2 separate regions of the Homo sapiens genome follow, and region 2 is reported to be linked to region 1. Evidence: microRNA targets listed by miRTarBase, many of them from high-throughput screens and not tested one by one. Region 1 holds a microRNA gene; the other region holds the end of a gene's coding sequence.

What was found. The annotated mature microRNA hsa-miR-6885-5p reads AGGGGGGCACUGCGCAAGCAAAGCC and lies in region 1 at 963-987, opposite strand. An mRNA with a match to its seed (bases 2 to 7 or 8) in the 3' UTR can be bound and repressed. Matches are read on the target gene's strand: a 7mer-m8 pairs with bases 2 to 8, a 7mer-A1 pairs with bases 2 to 7 and ends in A, and an 8mer does both.
Region 2: the mRNA of SCAMP3 is a reported target of hsa-miR-6885-5p. Seed matches in the 3' UTR shown: 7mer-A1 at 2,557-2,563.

The regions. Positions count from the first base shown.
Region 1 is chr19:6,388,712-6,391,711 of GRCh38, forward strand. MIR6885 (microRNA 6885) reads right to left here and starts at 992; the gene lies at 927-992. It overlaps GTF2F1 (general transcription factor IIF subunit 1), which reads right to left. Exons shown (of 13, transcript NM_002096.3): 4 at 733-926.
Region 2 is chr1:155,253,534-155,256,533 of GRCh38, forward strand. It overlaps SCAMP3 (secretory carrier membrane protein 3), which reads right to left. Exons shown (of 9, transcript NM_005698.4): 9 at 2,448-2,886. The coding sequence ends at 2,740. ENTREP3 (endosomal transmembrane epsin interactor 3) reads right to left here and starts at 1,950. Exons shown (of 12, transcript NM_006589.3): 1 at 1,120-1,950; 2 at 867-923; 3 at 551-661; 4 at 326-445; 5 at 92-199. The coding sequence starts at 1,344.

The sequences.
Region 1 (3,000 bases):
CCAAGGTAGGAGGATCACTTGACCCCAGGAGTTCAAGACCAGCTTGAGCAACGCAGCAAGACCCCATCTCTACCAAAAATACAAAAATTAGCCAGGCATGGTGGGGCGTGCCTATAGTCCCAGCTACTCAGGATGCTGAGGTGGGAAGATCTCGAGCCCAGGAGTTGGAGCCTGCAGTGAGCTACGATCGCACCACTGCACTCCAGCCTGGGCAACGGAGTGAGACCCTGTCTCAAAATAAATAAGTAGGCTGGGCACGGTGGCTCACGCCTGTAATCCCAGCACTACGGGAGGCCGAGGCGGGAGGATCGCCAAGTTCGAGACCAGCCTGACCAATATGGTGAAACCCTGTCTCTACTAAAAATACAAAAATTAGCTGGGCGTGGTGGTGGCAGGCACCTGTAATCCCAGCTACTCAGGAGGCTCAGGCAGGAGAATAACTTGAACCTGGGAGGTGTGGGTTGCAGTGAGCCAAGATCGTGCTACTGCACTCCAGCCTGGGCGACAGAGCAAGACTCTGTCTCAAAAAAATACAAGTAAGTAAAATAAGATAACATAAATAAATAAATAAATAAATAAATAATAAAATCCTACAGGGATGGAAGTGCCAGCACTTCCACTGCAGCAGTGGGAATCTGAGGTTCAGAGAGGGTACCCCACAAAGTATGTAAGTTGAGGCCTGGGGATGTGGACTGGTCACTAAGCCGGCACCGCCACCGCCCCACCACTTACTTCCTGCCTGATTTGCCGTTGACCCGGAGCAGCCAGGGCTGGTCCTCGGGCCGGAACTCCTTGAGGACGATGCCGTACTTCTTCCTCCGAGCCTCCTCCCGAAGCTTGCGGTTGAACTCACTGCCCGCGCCCGATTCGGGCATCTCCTCCTCTTGGTAGATTTTCTTGTTGCTCAAGTCCCGCTCCAGCCGAGCCTAGGGGAGCAGGAAGCAAAGCCTCTCAGGGTCCCTGGCTTTGCTTGCGCAGTGCCCCCCTCCAGGAACGCCCTTCCTTGCCCTAGGCCAAGCTCTAGATTCTCAAAACCAACTTACCACTTGGCAACAAGGGAGGAGAACGGTAGCCTTTGACAAATCTGGGTAAAGGGAATTTGGGCGAGCCTTGCGCTCTATTTTTGCAACTTAAAAGCTTGAAATTATTTCCAAATTAAAATTAAAGAGAAAAAGACCACCTGGTGACCATCAAGCAGGCCATCGGAGGCAAAATTCCTTATCTGAGGAATGTAGAAGTAATTAATTAGACTTCCCTATTATCTACAGCAGGCATCTGGTTCCAGGATTCTTTTCAAAAAATGTCTAAGTACCTAGAATTTCCACACATCTCTCCAGAATGCATGCATATCGAAACTCATTGTGCTGTGGCTCACACCTGTAATCCCAGAACTTTGGGAGGCCAAGGCAGAAGGATCACTTGAGCTCAGGAGTTTAAGACCAGCCTGGCATCAGAATGGCTTGAACCTGGGAGGCGGAGGTTGCAGTGAGCCGAGATCATGCCACTGCACTCCAGCCTGGGTGATAGAGTGACACTCTGTCTTAAGAAAAAAAAGGCCAGGCGCGGTGGCTCACGCCTGTAATCCCAGCACTTCGGGAGGCCAAGGCAGGTGGATCACGAGGTCAGGAGATTGAGACCATCCTGGCTAACACGGTGAAACCCCGTCTCTACTAAAAATACAAAAAATAAGCCGGGCATGATGGCAGGCGCCTATAATCCCAGCTACTTGGGAGGCTGAGGCAGGAGAATGGCGTGAACCCGGGAGGCGGAGCTTGCAGTGAGCCGAGATCCTGGCGCTGCACTCCAGTCTGGGCGACAAAGCAAGACTCAGTCCCCAAAAAAAAAAAAAAAAAAAAAAAAGACCAGCCTGGGCAACATAGTGAGATCCTATATCTATTTCCTAAAAATAAAAAGGCTGGGCATGGTGGAAGGCTGAGGCGGGTGGATCACTTGAGGTCAGGAGTTCAAGACCAGCCTGACCAACATGGCGAAACTTCGTCTCTACTAAAAATACAAAAATTAGCTAGGCGTGGTGGTGGGCGCCTGTAATCCCAGCTACTTGGGAGGCTGAGGCAGGAGAATGGCTTGAACCTGGGAGGTGGAGGTTGCAGTGAGCCCAGGTCGCGCCACTGCACTCCAGCCTGGATGACAAGAGACTCCATCACAAAAAAATAAAATAAAATAAATAAAAAGAAACTCATTGTGCAACACTTGCTGACATTAAGGCACCAAAATCTCTACAAATTAACAATTTATCGTGACCTACATGGCTAATGTGATCCGAATTACCCTTAAGCTCTTGATTTAAGGTCCATATATACCATTTCCAAAACACTCTAGAATCAGCCACATCTCATAACCTCCACTGCCTCCAGTGCCCTGCCAGGACTCACCTAGACCAGTCCAGTTGCTTCTACCTTGGTCTCCGTTTATTTGCCCTCAAACCCACAGTTTGTCTCCCCATAGCAGCCAGATCACACACACTACAACTTCCCAATTGAAGATGCTTTAATGGCTCCCAAAGTCCTTTCTAGAGCCTCTGATGGCAGGGGCTCTGGGAAAGCCCCCAGCCCAGTCCCCTCCCTTGCCCAGATAAACCATGGCCAAAAATGTCCAACAGTGGGCACAGCTTCTAAATGTTCTCCTTTAAGGAGAGGCCTCTGGTGGGCCTACCAAACCTAACTTACAGGGACACCCAGGAGCTAGGCCTGGGCCTTTGCCATTTCCGTTTTTTTTTTTTTTTTTTTTTTTTTTTTTTTGAGGCAGGGTCTTGCTCTGTTATCCAGGCTGGAGTGCAGTCGTACAATCATAGCTCACTGCAGCCTTGAACCCCTGGGCTCAAGCGATCCTCCTACCTCAGCCTCCTATGTAGGACTACAGACCCACGCTATCAGCCCCAACTAACTTTTTAATTTTTTTGTAGAGTTGGGGTCTTGCTATTGTATTGCCCAGGCTGGTCTCAAACTCCTGGCCTTAAGCAAGCTTCCTGCCTCAGCCTCC
Region 2 (3,000 bases), not on the chromosome of region 1:
ATCTGTAGCCATTGTTCCCTCAGGCAAGTCTCAGCACACACACCCCTGCCCCCACCATACCTGCGTGCCCTGGCCCCTGCTCCCTTCTCACCGTATGCACGAGGTCCAGGGAGAAGATTTGGATGCAGCAGACAATAGCAGAGAGTGTACAGATTATAGCGGCACAAATGGTGAGCCCACAGACGCTGAAGAGCAGGTTCTGGGGAAGGGAAAGGAGGAGAGGAGTCAGGAGACGGCTAAGTTCCACACATTATGGGCCTGTGAGTACCCCAGCAGGGGAGGCAAGAGTGAGAACCAGGAGGATGTTTGCAGGGTGCAAGCTCACCTTGAGGGCCCCTCGGGCTTCATCACAGGTGGAGTTAGGGGCAACTTTCAGTTCCTGCCCCGACTCTGGACAGGGCCGGAGGAGGGGAACAGAGGGACAGCACACACAGACCTTTCCTTCCTGAGTGGAGCAGGGAGGGTGAGGCAGCCTGAGTCAGGACAAACTGAGGTGTCCTGCACACCTCCCCCAGCCAGTTCTTTCCAGCTCTCCCTCCTCAAATCTCACCAGAGAGCACTGTTGGAAGTCTCGGGCCAGTTGAGCATTCTTACAGGAGAGAACAGAGCCAGCCATGCTAAGCATGACACAGAGCACCGAAAGCAAGGAGAAGAAGGAGATCTGGGGAAAACAGGGTGCAGACTCAGGGCTGGGACCCTCATGAGTACTCCTCTGCCACGGACAGAGTCCCCCTCCTTCACAGACACTTCGTGCCCACCCGGCTGGCACCAACTGGGGAGCCAGTTCCCTTCTTGAGGACATAAATGGGCTTCCCCTTGCGTGCTGGGCACCTGCCTCCCAGTGGGCACTGGACCCTGGCACCTACCACTAGAGTGAATGGCCGCTTCCAGGACACAATGCCAACCACCCCGGAGAACGCCAGCTGGGGACAGAGTGGGCACAGGCTCAGCCTGGCAGGGGAGGCTCCTGAGTGAGCCCCTCACCACAGGATGCACCCAGCCCTGTAAGGAGGCAGAGGACCAGGAGAGGGAGGAGAGGCAAGCATGTGGACTTGCAGCTGGTGTGGAGGGTGGGGCCCGAGGAGCCTCCCCCACCCAACAACTGTGCACCCAACTCACCGAGAACCCAGCCCAAGACGGGCAGGACCTCTTGATGCTCTCGGTGGTGGTGACGGAAGAGGCCACCATGCTGAAGGTGACCACCAGGATGCCCAGGAGCACTTGGACCAGCCCCAGCGTAAGCAGGGCCTGCAGCCAGGGTCGGTGGAGGCGGAGGTGGGTAAGGCCCCTGGTGCTGGGCCGGCTGGTCAGCGAGCGGCTGGAGTCACTAGGCGAGGGCATCATGCCTGCTGCCCGGTTGCCTGCGCCTCGCTCGGCCCTCCCTGGCACTTGGGAGCATCTCAGAGGCGCCCAAGGCCCCGTCCTTTCTCCTCTCCACCCCACTCGCTCTAGAGCCCACCCCCTGGCTGGGTCCCCTGGGGCATGGCCGAGGGACGCCAGCTGTGGGGGGGGCCAAGCGAGGGGCGTCACGGAGGGACCGCGGAGTGCTCCCTCCCCACCACGGGCACTGGACGGGCACCGTGCCCGGGGCGACGATGAGGACGCGGGGGCACCGGCTCATCGCATCTCCCTAGGGAAGAGGGGCACCGAGAAGGGCCGGTCCAGGAGTGAGGAGGGGGCGGCGGCCTGGAGCCCAGGGAGGGGTGGGGAGGGTAAAAGCGGGAAGGATGGAAATAAGTCTAGAGAAGAGGGGAGGGGTCGGCGTGGGGTGACTCTAGAGGCGCGGTCGGTGTGCCCTCAGGGCGTCCAGTAGGATCCGGGGCCGCCTGGTGGGGAGAGGCCGCGGCGCCGCTGTCTCCTGTGTCGCCTGTCCCGCTCCCCTCCCCACCACGCTCCGCTCCCCGAGCTCCGGCTGCCGCAGGTCGGGGACTAGAGAAGGGGGATGGGAATGGGGATGGTGCGGGAAGGAGGGGCATGGCGGCGAGGGCCGGCGCGGTGCACCCCGGGAGTTGTAGTTCGGGACTGAGACCCTGTCGGGGTTGGGGGATCCCGCGGCAGGGCGAGGCAGTCGGATAAGCGCTCCTCCAGTCCCTGCCTCGCTCTGGACCCTGGCTAGGCTGCTAGTGATCCTTTGGGCCTCCACTTGAGCCCCATCCAGCTTTTCAGGCTCCAGGCCCGCGTATTCCTTGGCGTTCCCGGCAGAGGCGGTGGCTCTTCCCCGTCATTAATGGAGAGGGGTGGGGAGCAGGGCTCCCTGGCGTCTCCGGGTTTCGCGTTTCCGTGGACTTCCCACCTCCTTCCTGCGCCAGCCACTCGGGCTCCACCGCCCCGCCCCTCATATCTCCCAGTTTACACTAAAGCCGGGTCCGACCTTCCCACCTCACTCCACACTCTCCTTTCTCTTTCATAAGGCCTAATTCCCAATGAAGATTCAGGAAACGGGGATGTCAGTTCCAGTTCCACTTTCTTTTTATTTAAATAACCGAAGCAACAGCCGTGGCACAGCAGAGGGAAGCTGGGTTGGGGCGTGTGAGAGGTGGCAGCAGTGTGGCCTGATGGGGGGACTAGGTCACAGTGAACTCCCCACACGCCTGTCAGGTTCAGCAGTCATGGCCATAGGATTGGGAGCACTACGGAGGAGCCATCAGTTAGTGATGTCTCTCCAAGTCCCAGAGACCTTAGGGACGGGAGCTAAGTCAGCTCCCTCAAGTAGCAGGGCCAGGGCATCCCAGTCAGGGGTCACGGGGCCCGGAAGGCATTTTCAGCAGCCCCAGCGGCTGCATTGGCAGCTGCGGTTCGCACCGCAGGGTTGGAGAAGACACCAGCAGCAAATTCTTGCTGGGCCTTCTGAAAGCTGGCACCTGTGCGGCGGTATAAGGAGTGGATCTGCAAGTAGAGGACAAAGACATTACCGCCCATTCCAGCCACTGGTTCCCCACCCCAGCCTAACAGCATCACTACCACTCAGCAGCCTGCTGCCCAGCACACACACTCACACAC